4 linked regions of the Homo sapiens genome follow. The protein of the gene in region 4 purifies or fractionates together with the protein of the main gene of each other region. This does not show direct contact. Each region holds a gene or a part of one and is shown on either strand. Other genes may lie near its edges.

The links. Proteins that work in one complex are often made in the same cells at the same time.
Region 1: the proteins of CLINT1 (region 4) and STX8 purify together in Homo sapiens (co-immunoprecipitation; 3 studies listed by BioGRID and IntAct, with this or other methods). This does not show direct contact.
Region 2: the proteins of CLINT1 (region 4) and LOXL3 purify together in Homo sapiens (affinity purification with mass spectrometry; 2 studies listed by BioGRID and IntAct, with this or other methods). This does not show direct contact.
Region 3: the proteins of CLINT1 (region 4) and CLTCL1 purify together in Homo sapiens (affinity purification with mass spectrometry; 2 studies listed by BioGRID and IntAct, with this or other methods). This does not show direct contact.

The regions. Positions count from the first base shown.
Region 1 is NC_000017.11:9,569,321-9,572,820, reverse strand, and holds part of STX8 (syntaxin-8), read left to right. Parts: intron 1-2,883; exon of another isoform or gene 2,884-3,265; coding exon of another isoform or gene 3,266-3,323; intron 3,324-3,500. UniProt on the Homo sapiens protein: Vesicle trafficking protein that functions in the early secretory pathway, possibly by mediating retrograde transport from cis-Golgi membranes to the ER.
Region 2 is NC_000002.12:74,543,943-74,547,442, reverse strand, and holds part of LOXL3 (lysyl oxidase homolog 3 isoform 1 precursor), read left to right. Parts: intron 1-3,500. UniProt on the Homo sapiens protein: Protein-lysine 6-oxidase that mediates the oxidation of peptidyl lysine residues to allysine in target proteins.
Region 3 is NC_000022.11:19,181,347-19,183,719, forward strand, and holds part of CLTCL1 (clathrin heavy chain 2), read right to left. Parts: intron 2,266-2,373; coding exon 2,044-2,265; intron 1-2,043. UniProt on the Homo sapiens protein: Clathrin is the major protein of the polyhedral coat of coated pits and vesicles. Two different adapter protein complexes link the clathrin lattice either to the plasma membrane or to the trans-Golgi network.
Region 4 is NC_000005.10:157,803,391-157,807,322, reverse strand, and holds part of CLINT1 (clathrin interactor 1), read left to right. Parts: intron 1-1,210; coding exon 1,211-1,457; intron 1,458-3,603; coding exon 3,604-3,673; intron 3,674-3,932. UniProt on the Homo sapiens protein: Binds to membranes enriched in phosphatidylinositol 4,5-bisphosphate (PtdIns(4,5)P2). May have a role in transport via clathrin-coated vesicles from the trans-Golgi network to endosomes. Stimulates clathrin assembly.

The sequences.
Region 1 (3,500 bases), on a different chromosome or scaffold from region 4:
GACTATTGAGAGTGAAACAGTGAGACACTCAGCTGTGCTCCCAAAGCACAAAATGGGTCGCTGATTAGGGGGGTAGAAAGGAGTATGGGAAGGGACTTGAAAAACCTATAAAAGGCCAGGTGTGGTGGCTCACACCTGTAATCCTAGCACTTTGGGAGGCTGAGGCAGGCGGATCATAAGGTCAGGAGTTCGAGACCAGCCTGACCAACATGGTGAAACCCCGTCTCTACTAAAAACGCAAAAATTAGCTGGGCATGTTGGTGTGTACCTGTAATCCCAGCTACTCAGGAGGCTGAGGCAGGAGAATCACTTGAACCCAGGAGGTGGAGGTTGCAGTGAGCCGAGATTGCGCCACTGCACTTCAGCCTGGGCGACAGAGCGAGACTCCATGTCAAAACAAAACAAAACAAACAAACAAAAACAACCTATAAAAACAGATTCAACTACAGCTTTACCTTTGTGTTGCTAAAATCATAGGTCATTGGCACCTCCCTCAGTGTCTAGCAATGGAATATAGCAGTTACTATTTTAATGGCCTATCAAAGCAAGTGGTAAGCTCGCTGTTTAACAGAAGGAGCCCATGATCACTGTCTCTGAACTGGCTCTTTGCTAATGTTAATTAGCTTTACCTCCAGGGTAACTAATTTGTTGATGATGTACCATTTCCAGAAAAATTACAGTTAAACCTTAATAGTTTTATATCCTGATTGGACTTTTTATGTTGGTAGCATGGTCTTCTTTGTGTTGAATTGCTTTTTAAAAACTTTATTTTGGAAGGTAAAAGATACACAAACTAGAATAGTATAATGGGCCCCTTTCATACTCACCACCCAATTTCTGTGATTATCAATATTCTGCCATTCTTGTTTCATCTCTACCCTCCACACCTTTTTTTTTTTTAATTTTGAGATGGAGTCTTGCTCCGTCGCCCAGGCTGGAGTGCAGTGGCATGATCTTGGCTCACTGCAACCTCTGCCTCCTGAGTTCAAGTGATTCTCCTATCTCAGCCTCCCGAGTAGCTGGGATTACAAGCACCCGCCACCATGCCCGGCTAATTTTTGTATTTTTAGTAGAGATGGGGTTTTGCCATGTTGGCCAGGCTGGTCTTGAACTCCTGACCTCAGGTGATCACCCGTCTTGGCCTCCCAAAGTGCTGGGATTACAGGTGTGAGCCACTACGCCTATGCCCGGCCCAGATTACTTTTTTTTTTTTTTTTTTTTGAGACAAAGTCTTGCTCTTGTCCCCCAGGCTGGAGTGCGATGGCACAATCTCGGCAAACTGCAACCTCTGCCTCCCGGGTTCCAGCGATTCTCCTGCCTCAGCCACCCCCCGACCCAATTACTTTTTCTAAACTAGTACTTCAGGCACCTGTGTGCTTGATAGTGTAATGAGGTTGTCTATTGCCCCAGGCCAAGGGTTCCCGCCCGGACTTTACCGCAGATTGGAATCACTTGGAGAGCTTTTAAAGCTCCCCACGCACGCCCAGGACAAACCCCATACCAGTTGAGTCAGAATGCTGAGGTTGGGACCAGGCATTGTTATTTTTTTAAAGATTCCCCAGTGATTCCAACTTGTTTCAGAACTATTGCTCTTTAGGGCTAAAATAACAACACAAGGACTGGAGTCAGGACACCTGGGAGTTTGTGCTAGCTGTGTGCATTTCTCATAACCTCTTTAGGGCCACTCTCTGTGTGTAAAAGTGTTCTCTATGGCTCTGAAATTCTCCTTTAAGTCTAACCTTGTTAGACTGGTGTTCAAGGCTCTGCAGAAACTAGCTTCTACTCATCTCTACCATTTTATACTTAACAGGCTTCCAGGGCCACCACGCAGCCAAATGTGCCGGGCACGTTTCCTTCCATTCATCTTTGCTCGCCCTGTCTTTCACTAAGTCTAGAATGTGCTCCTCCCTCCTGTCTGAATAAGAGACCTGCTTTAACTTCGTGGTCATCCAGATGTAACCTCATGGACCCTCTCCATCTGAGTGCCTTGGTCAGCAGTAATCTCTTCCACCTCTGAACTCCAGACGTACTTACCACTTAGATCCCACATTTGGCAGGAGGCAAAACTTACCATATGTGGATGATTTTTATATGTATGGTCTGGACCCCAGAGCCAGACCTAGGCTCCTCTTTTCATGATAATATGGAGGAAAAAAAAGTGAAATGTGGCAAAGTTTGGACCAGGACCCAATTTTCCTTATTAGCCTCCTGTTTTCTTAATTCTGTGTTTTCTTGTATCACTGCTATTTTTCCCTACACACACAAATACATGAATATATATATATGAATGATATACATGTGACATATACGAATATATAGTATATATGATATAAACGATAGGTATGTGATATATATGAATATATGTATCAGTGATATATATGATATATGTGAATGTGTGTGATATATATATGATATATACATGAATGGTGCTGCTTTACAGTATAGTGGTTAGTGGTTCAGGATCCTCTCTCAGGATCCTTATGAAGTTTACAGTGTAAAGCTCTTAGTATAGGACCTGGCTCAGGTCAGGTACTCAGCTGTTACTATTGCTATAATTATTCTAGTAAGATTCCTAAGGGAATTGATGGGCGCATTTTCCTTCATTTAAAAAAAAACACTTATCAAGTTCCCTCAGTGTTCAAATGATATGTGGGAATTGAAAGGTTTTAAAAAATATATTGTTTACTCAAGCAAAAATTAGGACATTAGGGGCAACAGGAGTTTCTGATATTTTGTGATGGACTGGTCCTGGAAGATAATGCTGGTCATGTTAGTCCACAGAGTCTCTGCTTTTTAGGAGCAGACTGTCTGATAGGAGAAATGAAATGTGTATGCATGCTTAAGTATTTTCGTTTTTTTGTTCGTTTGTTTTTTTGAGATGGAGTCTCACAGTGTCGCCGGGCTGGAGTGCAATGGTGTGATCTCAGCTCACTGCAACCTTCGCCTCCTGGGTTCAAGCGATTCTCCTGCCTCAGCCTCCCAAGTAGCTGGGATTACAGGCACCCGCCACCATGCCTGGCTAATTTTTTGTATTTTTAGTTGAGACGGGGTTTCACTATGTTGGCCAGGCTGGTCTCGAACTTCTGACCTCATGATCTGCCCGCCTCGGCCTCCCAAAGTGCTGGGATTACAAGCGTGAGCCACCGCATCCGGTCTGCTTAAGTATTTTCTATATGATAGAAAGTAAAAATGCTCTGAGAGAAGCAAAACATAAGGGGCTATTGGGAGTTCACCGTGAACCCTTCAAAGCCTCCAACGCTGCTGAATGACAACTAGAAGCTTATTAAATGTTTTGAGAGAATTCTGGCAAGCTCAGATGTCAGGTGGGTGTGTGGCCTTTGTCCCCGGAGCATTTGGTTTTAGGCTAGACAATACTTGCTGTTCCTGCACCCTAGAGCCGCCCCCAGGCATCTGCAAGCCCAGCTTCTTCACCTTGCCTCGGTGTCACCTGATCCTAAGTAGCAGCTCCTTATCACTCTCTGTCCCTTTATCCTGCTGCG
Region 2 (3,500 bases), on a different chromosome or scaffold from region 4:
ATGTTCTGAAAGATGCGTAGAATTTAGACATTTCCAGTGAAGAAGATAGCGTGAACAAAGGTGTAGAGATCCACTCACCCAATATTTATTTACTGAGATCTTACTATGTGCCAGGTACTGTTGTAGACACTACCCGTGGCTCATGCCTATAATCCCAGGACTTTGGGAGGCCACGGTGGAAGCATTATTTGAGCCCAAGAATTCGAGACCAGCCTGGGCAACATAATGAGACCCTGTCTCTACAGATAATTTTTTAAAAATAAAATTAGCTGAACATGGTGGTGCGTGCCTGTAGTCCCAGCTACTTGGGAGGCTGAGGTGGGAAGATTGCTTGAGCCCAGGAAGTCAAGGCTGCAGTGAGCTGTGATCATGCCACTACACTGCCTGGGTGGCAGAGCAAGACCCTGTCTCAAAAAATAAATTAACTAAGGCCGGGCACGGTGGCTCACACCTGTAATCCCAGCACTTTGGGAGGTCGAGGCGCGGATCACCTGAGGTCAGGAGTTCGAGACCAGCCTGACCAACATGGAGAAACCCCATCTCTACTAAAAATACAAAACTAGCCGGGTGTGGTGGCGCATGACTGTAATCCCAGCTACTCGGGAGGCTGAGGCGGGAGAATGGCTTGAACCCGGGAGGCGGAGGTTGCGGTGAGCTGAGATCGCGCCATTGCACTCCAGCCTGGGCAACAAGAGCGAAACTCCGTCTCAAATAAAAATAAAATAAAAATAAATTAAGTAAGTAAGTAAATAAATAAGTGGTGAAGGAAGGCCTCTTGGAGAAGGCATCATTTGAGAAAAGATTTAAAGGAGGTGAGGGCACAAGCTATGCAGACCTCTAGATAAACATTTCTAGGAAGAGGGATCAAAAATGAAAATATTCTGGGGTGTGTGTGTGCCTGTGTGTGTATGTAGTGGGTGATGGGATAAGGCCTCTCCTTCTCCTGGAGGCCACTGTGGCTGGAGCTGAGTGAAAAAGAAGAAAATGGTAGGAGATGCAGTGTAGGTGGTCTTCGGAAAAGAATGGGAAGCCAGATCCTGCGGGCCATCTGGGAGAGGATGGCTTTTGTTCTGTGGGAGATAAGGAACCACTGGAGGGCTTGGAGCAGAGGTGTGACATCGGGCTTCCATTTTTTTTTCAGTACTACTTTCACTGCTTTATTAGGAATAGATTGTAAGGGATGCAGTAGAAGCAAGAAGTCAGGTGGCTGGTTATGGGGTTATTGTCTTCTGAAAGCCACGTAAAGAAAGTGAAAGGTGATGGTGACCAGTGAAAGTGGTGAAAAATGATCAAGATTTACAGACAGTTGAAGGCAGAGCTATAGGACTTGCTGATGGATTCAGTGTGATGTGAGAGAGAGGAGTTAAGGCTCTCTCCAGGTTTTTGGCCTCAGCTAAGTAAGAAATTGGCCTCACCTGACAAGGAAAACAGTGAATGGAGCATGTTTTGTTGGGAGATGGGCTTGGGGGTGGAGGGTAGGAACTTGGTTTTAGACCTGTTAAATTTAAGATTCTTTAAGACATTGAAGTGGCGAGGCTAAGTTAGGTAATTTAATATAGGACTCTGGAGTTCAGTTGAGTAAAACATATAAAGTCCTGAAACTGGACAACATACCAAGGAAGTGAATGTAAATTTAAAAGACAGAGAGAGGCCCAGAGACTGAACCTTGGGGAGACTAAATATTTAAAAGTCAGAAGATAAGATGAATGCAAACAGTGAGGTGAGGTAGGAAGAAAACCAGGGGAGTGTGGTGGCCTGGGAGCCAAGTAAAGTGCTTCGAAGAGGAGAGAGTGACCAGCTAAGTCAGTGCTGCCCAGACCTAAAAACATGAGGACTGAGAAACAAATGCTGGATTTAGCAACAGTAAAGTCACTGTTGGCCCCAACAGAGATGATAATGAATGGTTTATATTTGGAAGACAGTAAGTTAGCAAGAGTAGGTTTATACTGAGAAATAGTGGAAGATCTGGATAAAGGGAGGCCAGAAAATGGAATGCTTTAGGTGCCAAATTGGAGAGTTTGGCCTTTGCCTTATAGAAAAATTACAAATAAAGGTATTTATATGGGACAAGAATAAAGCCAGTGTTTTTGAAAGTTTGCCTGATAGTAGTGGATGAGGAGAGGAGGGTCTTGATGCAGTAAGACCAGTCAGGAGTTTGTTCTAAAATTGAAGCTTATCAGGAGGGTAAAAACAAAGATGGAGGAAAATGAATAGATGTAGGATGACTGATAGAACATAGAGAATGAGAGAACAGACACCTAAAATGATTCCGATGCTGCCTGAGAGAAGGATGGTACCAGCAGCCATCTCTGGGCTTCAGGTTAATATGAACTAGCTTTAGAGATGGGCTGTCCTTGGAAAGTTTGAGACACAGGAATTGTCCCCAGGTATGCAAAGCTGAAATAAGTTTTAGGGATCAGGAATATTTGTTGGACATATCGGAATCTCATACTAAGTCTGGGATATAAAGGCTGGAGAAAGAGATACACTAAAGCACAGAGGCCATTCTTCGTGGGGAAAGAGATTGCGGGAGCCCTGGGAGATTCTGTGATGGGGCTATGATCTAGATCCTTCACAGGTCAGGCCCAGCAGAGGGAGCATTCTCACAGGTGATACAATTATTACAATTATGAAAGATAGGCAAGACAGTTGTAAACAACTCTCCCCTCCTTAGGGAAAAAAAATGGATCTGCTGGCTTTTAGAGGAAGTCAGTAAGATTTAGGGAATGAGAAAATCAAAACCTGATGTATTAATCATTTTTCAATTTGTTTTGGTAGTTCTACCCTAGAACATGTAAAAGTTGTAGAACTTTAGAATAAGAAAAGAATGTACAGATAATTGAACTATTTACTACTCTTTTACAGGTAATGAAATTGAGGCTCTAAGAGCTTCAGTGCTATTTAAGAAGTCACTCTTCTAGTTCATTTCAGCTTGACAGATGTTTATTGAACTCCTATTTGCCAAGTACTGTGCAAGGTGCTGAGAATACAAAGGTGAATAAATGACAAGAGAGGTTATTAGGCTGCAGATCATAGAAGACCTTATAGGCCATCATAAGGATTCAGGTCCTTATGATAAAAGGATTGGGAAGCCTTTGATGTTTGGATTGTTTGTTTGTTTGTTTTGTTTGTTTGTTTTTTTGAGAGGGAGTCTGGCTTGTTGCCCAGGCTGGAGTGCAGTGGCACAATCTCTGCTCACTGCAACCTCCACCTCCCTGGGTTCAAGTGATTCTTCTGCTTCAGCCTCCTGAGTGGCTAGGTCTACAGGTGCCCACCACGCCCAGCTAATTTTTGTATTTTTAGTAGAGACGAGGTTTCACCATGCTCGCCAGGCTGGTCTTGAACTCCTGACCTCAGGTGATCCGCCTACCTCGGCCTCCCAAAGTGCTGGGCTTACAGGCTTGAGCCACCGTGCCCGGCCATTGAAGTGTTTTAATGGGGAGGGCTATGAGATGGCATGATCAGGTTTGTGACTCCAAAAGATCATTTGAATCTATTTC
Region 3 (2,373 bases), on a different chromosome or scaffold from region 4:
TGACCCCACCCACTGCCAGAGAGCGAGGCGGCAGCACTGCACTAGAGGGGCGGCAGCAACTGTGCAGCTAGGATCCCCTCACAAACACACTGAGTAAGAAAGAGAAATAAGAATGTGCCCCCCATGAGCTGGGGTCTGGGGGGGGCTGAGAAATGAGGAGGAAGCAGGGGGCACACTTGCTGACACCTAGGGTGAGGGCTGAGCTAGGCCTGTACCCTCCCTACAATGGGAGAGCGCTGGGGGCGTCTCAGAGGGATGGCCCTCAAGCTTCCCAGATGAGCCACGAGGCCCCAGGCCCAGCTGTCCACCAGGAAAGGACTGTGCTTCTTGTCCGCGCCCTCATTCTCCCAGCACTGCTGTGTGGTGTCAGCTGAGCACCAGCTCAAGCTGACAATCAGCTCACACCCCCATGCCACTGACTGGGAAACCCCTTGCCAGCCCCCTCCTCTCCTTGAACTCTCCCCATGACAGGCGTCTCATCTGCCCCAGCAGGAATAGGTGGGTGGCAGCAGAGAAGGTGCTCCAGCAGCCACCACCTCCCAGGGCCAGTGGAGTCTGGGAACCCTGGGCCAAGGCTGTGCAGCCACAGTGTGGACCAACGTGATAGTGGCTGCTAACTCCATCATCCGCAACAGAAAGGGAATGTGCGCCTCAAAGTCCTGGGGGATCCCCACAAGCACTTTGACCCCCACAGCAATGACACTCCCTAGGGCCTGGTGAGCCTGAGTTCCTCTGACACTAACCCACGGGCCTCTACTGCCAGGAAGAGATTCAAGCACTTTCTTTCCTTGTGCTGGTTCTCAGAACACAGACTACTTTCAGGAAAGACACCCGAGGGATGGGAAAACCTGCTCATCATGGTGACAGCAGCTTCCACAGGCACGCACCAGACACCGCACACCACACACTGCATACCACAAACCACATACCACACGTGCCGCCTGTAGGGAGTTGCCATCCACTGTGGTGGGGGAACCAGGGCCCTTGTCAATCCAACCAGTCCATGTCCCCTGGCAGCCCACGAATCTCAGGCCACGTAGCCAGGGCTGTCCCTTCCTCCCCAACCCTTGAGAGTCATCAGGGAGTCTCACTCAGGCATGCTATGCAGATGGGATGGGGTCACACTGTCCTACAGGAGGGCAACGGCCTTGAATGGACTCTGGGATGGCCTTTATCAGGGGCTGGGCAGCCCCCTGGAGGCTCTGCAGGCGGCAGGCAGCCCTCCAGGCTAAAGCTGGCAGCATGAGCCCGCCTTCCTGTTTCCTTCCTACCTCCCACTCACCTGGGAGGCCCCTCCCTTCCCTCGCTCCACTGAGTGATGCTTCAGCATGAGTGCCTTCCGAGGCTCTCCATCTGGCTTGAAGGAGGTTAGATAGGCAAGTAGATGCTACTGGAAGTAGCTTTTCCAGTGTTAGAAACAACAAACTGTACCAGATGACACTGCTGACACAGGTCTCTGGACAGTGGCTAAAGCTAGATCCCAGCAGGGACTCCTAGGACTTCAACACCCAGGGAGAGTTTTACAATCAAGTACTGTCACTTCGATGAGGCAGAGAGTCATCCTCCCTATAGCTGTTAGAAGGATTCAGTGGATCTGTGAATACTCCTACTATGTGTTCAGCAAAAGGCAGCTACCACCAACCGTATGCTAACAGCTGCACCCCCAGACGCCACTGGGAGCTCCTCAGGGAGCTGGGATTGCCAGCCACCTCACTGTCACCTTGTTGAAGTCCAGGGCTGGGGATGAGCACGCCTGTTGTGCTCCTAGCAGTGTGCACATTGGGACAGCTGCCCAGCCAGAGTCTACAGGAGGGCTGCTGCCAGTGGGCACTCCCCATGATGATTTTCTGGAGGGGCTTAACGTTGGGCAGAAAACCACTTCAGCATGAAGGAAAGCAGCCACTCCTGAAGGCAGCCAGGGCTGGCTGGGGAATCTGGGTTGGCCTCAAAGGGGCCCACCCTTAAGACCTGCGGCCAGAGTCACTGCCAGGGTTGGGTCATGCCACACAGGGGCCGGGGAGCTGCAGCCGGCCCGGCACCTACCTTGCTCAGGTACTCCCTCATCACCTGGATGAAGTAGGGCATGGCCAAGTCCACGAGGTTGTGCCTCCAGGCCAGCTCAAGCACCATGTCTGGGCGAAGCAGGTCATAGCAGGTGAAGAGACAAGCTGCGAAGCACTCCCTCTTGCCTTCCTCCAGGAACCACTGCAGCAACTTCTGGGCCAGCTCAGCATCCCGCGACTCTGCAGCATGCTGCATGGCATCCTGCAGCCAAGGCAAATGCTTGCTTGGGCATCCTGCAGGCAGAGGCTTTGTGCCTGCAGCAGCTGGGCCGGAGGGCAGGGAGTGGCACTAGACTCCACCAAGGACTTC
Region 4 (3,932 bases):
ATTTGTTGTTGAGAAGTTAGTAAGGGCTTTTGAATGCGTATCAGAACTTGTAGGTTCCTTAAAATGTTTATATATAAAAATATATTTAACCCCTTTGCTCTGTGTGGGAAGTCATTCTTTTTGATCTTTGATTTATACAAGTTCCAGATTGGTTTATATTTAAGTACAAGTTGCTATAGTTCAGTCTGAGGTAAATTGCATCAGCAGTTTAAAGGAGAATTTTAAACATTATATTCCAGAATATTTATAAATTAAACCACCTACTCTAAAATTAAGTAATACAGGTAATGGAACATGTTTCAAGTAACATTTCTCTCTTTCTCTCTCTTTCGCTCTCTCTCTCTCTCTCTCTCTCTCTCCTACTTACATCAGAAAAAAACCCAATGACTTGTTACTAGAGAACAGACTAGGGCTGATATTTTCATTCCTAGCATATGAAAAACCCAGGCTTTTACTGTTTAGTTTTTAAAATCTTTTTCACTATTAAAGAAAAAGGAAAGAAAAAATTGTTGAATGTGGCTGAAGGAGAATTATCTTTAAAATATTTTAAATACAGTTGTTTTCTAGAAAGCATTTTCTATAGTTATATAAAAGTTTGATCTCCTGATACTATAGTAAAATAGCACAGTTGTAAAGTGCATTCCCTTATATTTTCATGCATTTACAGATGAGTTTAATTATTCGAATTAAGATGTGTGATTTTTTTAGCATCCATTGAACTTTTATTATTTTATTATGTACACACATTAGTCTTTGAGAGTTGATGCAGAATTGTGTTGTAAAAGTGGAACTATAGTAATTTGCACACAGTCCATGTCAAGAAAATAATCATCACATGCAAGTGTTTGAACTCTCAGGGTCTTATCATGGATTCTGATATCAAATCCTATTTTATTTTTAAGTTAAGCTTAAATCTGTAATAAAAACGAGTTATTTTGACATTTTTTATTTATACACATTTATGTAAATACTTTTTTGTAGCAGTATTTTAGACTTATATAGGATATTCTCTGTGTTTCCACTTCCCCTCCCCAGCGCACATATATCATTATTCAGACAGCTTAGATAACATTCTGTTGATCCCTGTCAAGTAGTCAAAGTATGAAATTTTGGAGTTACTGTATTTGAAATTCTTTAGCTCAAATCACTGAGGGACCCATTTTAAAATAATCCCGTCTTATTATTTTGCTTCATTTTTAATATCTTTTAGCGACAGCGATGAGGAAAAGAAAGCGAGAAGAGGCAGATCTCCCAAAGGTGAATTCAAAGATGAAGAGGAGACTGTGACGACAAAGCATATTCATATCACACAGGCCACAGAGACCACCACAACCAGACACAAGCGCACAGCAAATCCTTCCAAAACCATTGATCTTGGAGCAGCAGCACATTACACAGGGGACAAAGCAAGTCCAGATCAGAATGCTTCAACCCACACACCTCAGTCTTCAGTTAAGGTGGGAATGGCAGTAGTTTACACATTATACATGGTTTTATTTTTATAAACCGCTCTTCGAATTCCTGCATTAGTAGGCTTGGGCATTTCTAGGCAATCATATTAATTATGGATCATCTGGCATGTATTACCAAGAGACATTAATAATAAGAAATCTCTTTGAGGGGAGAAACCTGTCCAATTGCTGAATGATTGGGTACTTTCTATGAAAGTAGAAATGACACTTTTGGTTTGTTTGGGGAAGGTTGTGAATCAGAATGTAGTGCCTCTGTCCCCATCTAGACAATACTGGTTACCAACCACAAGTAGATTCACTAAAGAAAACATTGGAAGTATTTGAAAGTTTTAAGAAATGACAAACGAGGGAGTAAGAAGAGATATATAGGGGCAAGTTATCTCATGTAATGTAGAAACGTTGCCTATAAAGGGAGGCGTGTTTGCCTCACAGTCATTACTGATCAGTATCAAAAGAAGCACTGCCTCTTGTACCATCTTCGTTTGTTTTTATTTACCATAGAGATGAAATCCACCTGCTAGGTACCTGGCCAAACCCTAGTCTTTTCAACAGAAATCTGCCAAATAGGGAGATTTGCCTCAAAAGACTAAATTATTGTTTTTGTCACTTTCCCCGACTACTGTTTCCCCAGTTTGTGTCTTTGCAAGAGAAATAGCTAAAAGCTGGGAAAAACAGTTTTCTAATGTATGCAGCAGATTGTAGGTGACTCTGAAAATAAAACCAGGCCTGCTTAGTTGCAATAACAAATACCATGTCAGCTTTTGCCAAATATCTGTATAATTTTTTTAATAATAGAGACTTTTATCACATATCTTAAAGGATTTTAAATAACAGTTTGTAGTATAGCCTGAATATATGACACTCTGCAATAAATATTTTATATTTGTAGTACAAGCTTTTTCTTTTTCTTTTTCTTTTTTTGGAAGACCGAGTTTCGCTCTTGTTGCCCAGGCTAGAGTGCAATGGCGCGATCTTGGCTCACCGCAACCTCTGCTTCCCAGGTTCAAGTGATTCTCCTGCCTCAGCCTCCCGAGTAGCTGAGATTACAGGCATGCACCACCATGCCCGGCTAATTTTTTTGTATTTTTAGTAGAGACGGGCTTTCTCCATGTTGGTCAGGCTAGTCTCGAACTCCCGACCTCAAGTGATCCACCTGCTTCGGCCTCCCAAAGTGTTGGGATTACAGGCTTGAGCCACCGCGCCCGGCAGTACAAGCTTTTTCTTTTTTGTTTTCATTTACCCTCCTCCCCTCAAAAAAAATGTCTAGAAGGTTGAAGTTCTTAGAAAGTTACCCAACTCATTTGGATCTGTTCTTAAAGGTGTTTTGGAATCACAGTATATAGTATTTTAGTTTTCAAAGTTCAAATCAACATGCCTAGGATCTTAGGGTTTCCCCATTGCCTAATAATTGAGTTCTAATTTAGCATGTATATATCTAACATATAGGACATAGGTATTTAGGTATCAGGGTGCTTAGCTTTGTGGAGAAGATAAAAATAGTATTACAGGTATAGGCCTCAGTTTAGTTGGGGAACTAAATATGAAACATATCAATATATCAAATAACATAGAATTATACTAACTTGTGTGATATACAAACAATAAGTTTTGCTAAGGTTCATAGAAATTTAGAGCTGTTTAGGATCTTGACCTCTAATCCAGTGGATCTCAAGCCTTGGAATTATCTAGGGAGCTTTCTTGTAAGACTTTAACAGGCCAAGGTCTTGGCCTTTTTATACCTGGGCAATTATGACTCAGTGTATTGTATGGGACTGGTACATATGCTAGGGTATTTTTTTTTTTTTTTTTTTTTAATGAACTGATACTTAGCATTAAGATTCAAGTGGGATCTGGCAGTTAATATTTTCCAGAGTGAAATGCAGTCAGAAAAGTGAGGTAGGAAAAAAAGTGTCAATGTTAAGAGACTTTTACACTGCTGGGAATGGAGGTACTTAAAAGTGCTTGCTGCCTCTCCATAAGGATTCAAGGTCAGTACTCTTTTTCCAGAAAACCCTACCCTTATTAAGCTAATTACAGGTATTTATGTCTAAATTGAGAATTAGAGATGGATAGAGCTGATTTTTAGAAAAACAAACTTTTCGAAGCTCCTGAGTTATGTGTGTGTTTTCAGACTTCAGTGCCTAGCAGCAAGTCATCTGGTGACCTTGTTGATCTGTTTGATGGCACCAGCCAGTCAACAGGTAAGCTTCTACATTGGCCTTTTCTTTTGGTTTGAGAGTCATTTTTTAAAATGCCAAATAAAAGATAGATTGAAAAATAAGATTACTTATTTGCATTGGGTTCATTTTTTATATGAAATTAGTGAGTCTTGAGCATTATTTGGAATCATTGTGTTATTTTTGCTTATCTTTTTATATGTACACCCATTTCTCTATCCCTATTTTATACCTTTTTCTGACCCACCCTCAGACTAGCAAAACTTTGTTTGTGGTCAGTACT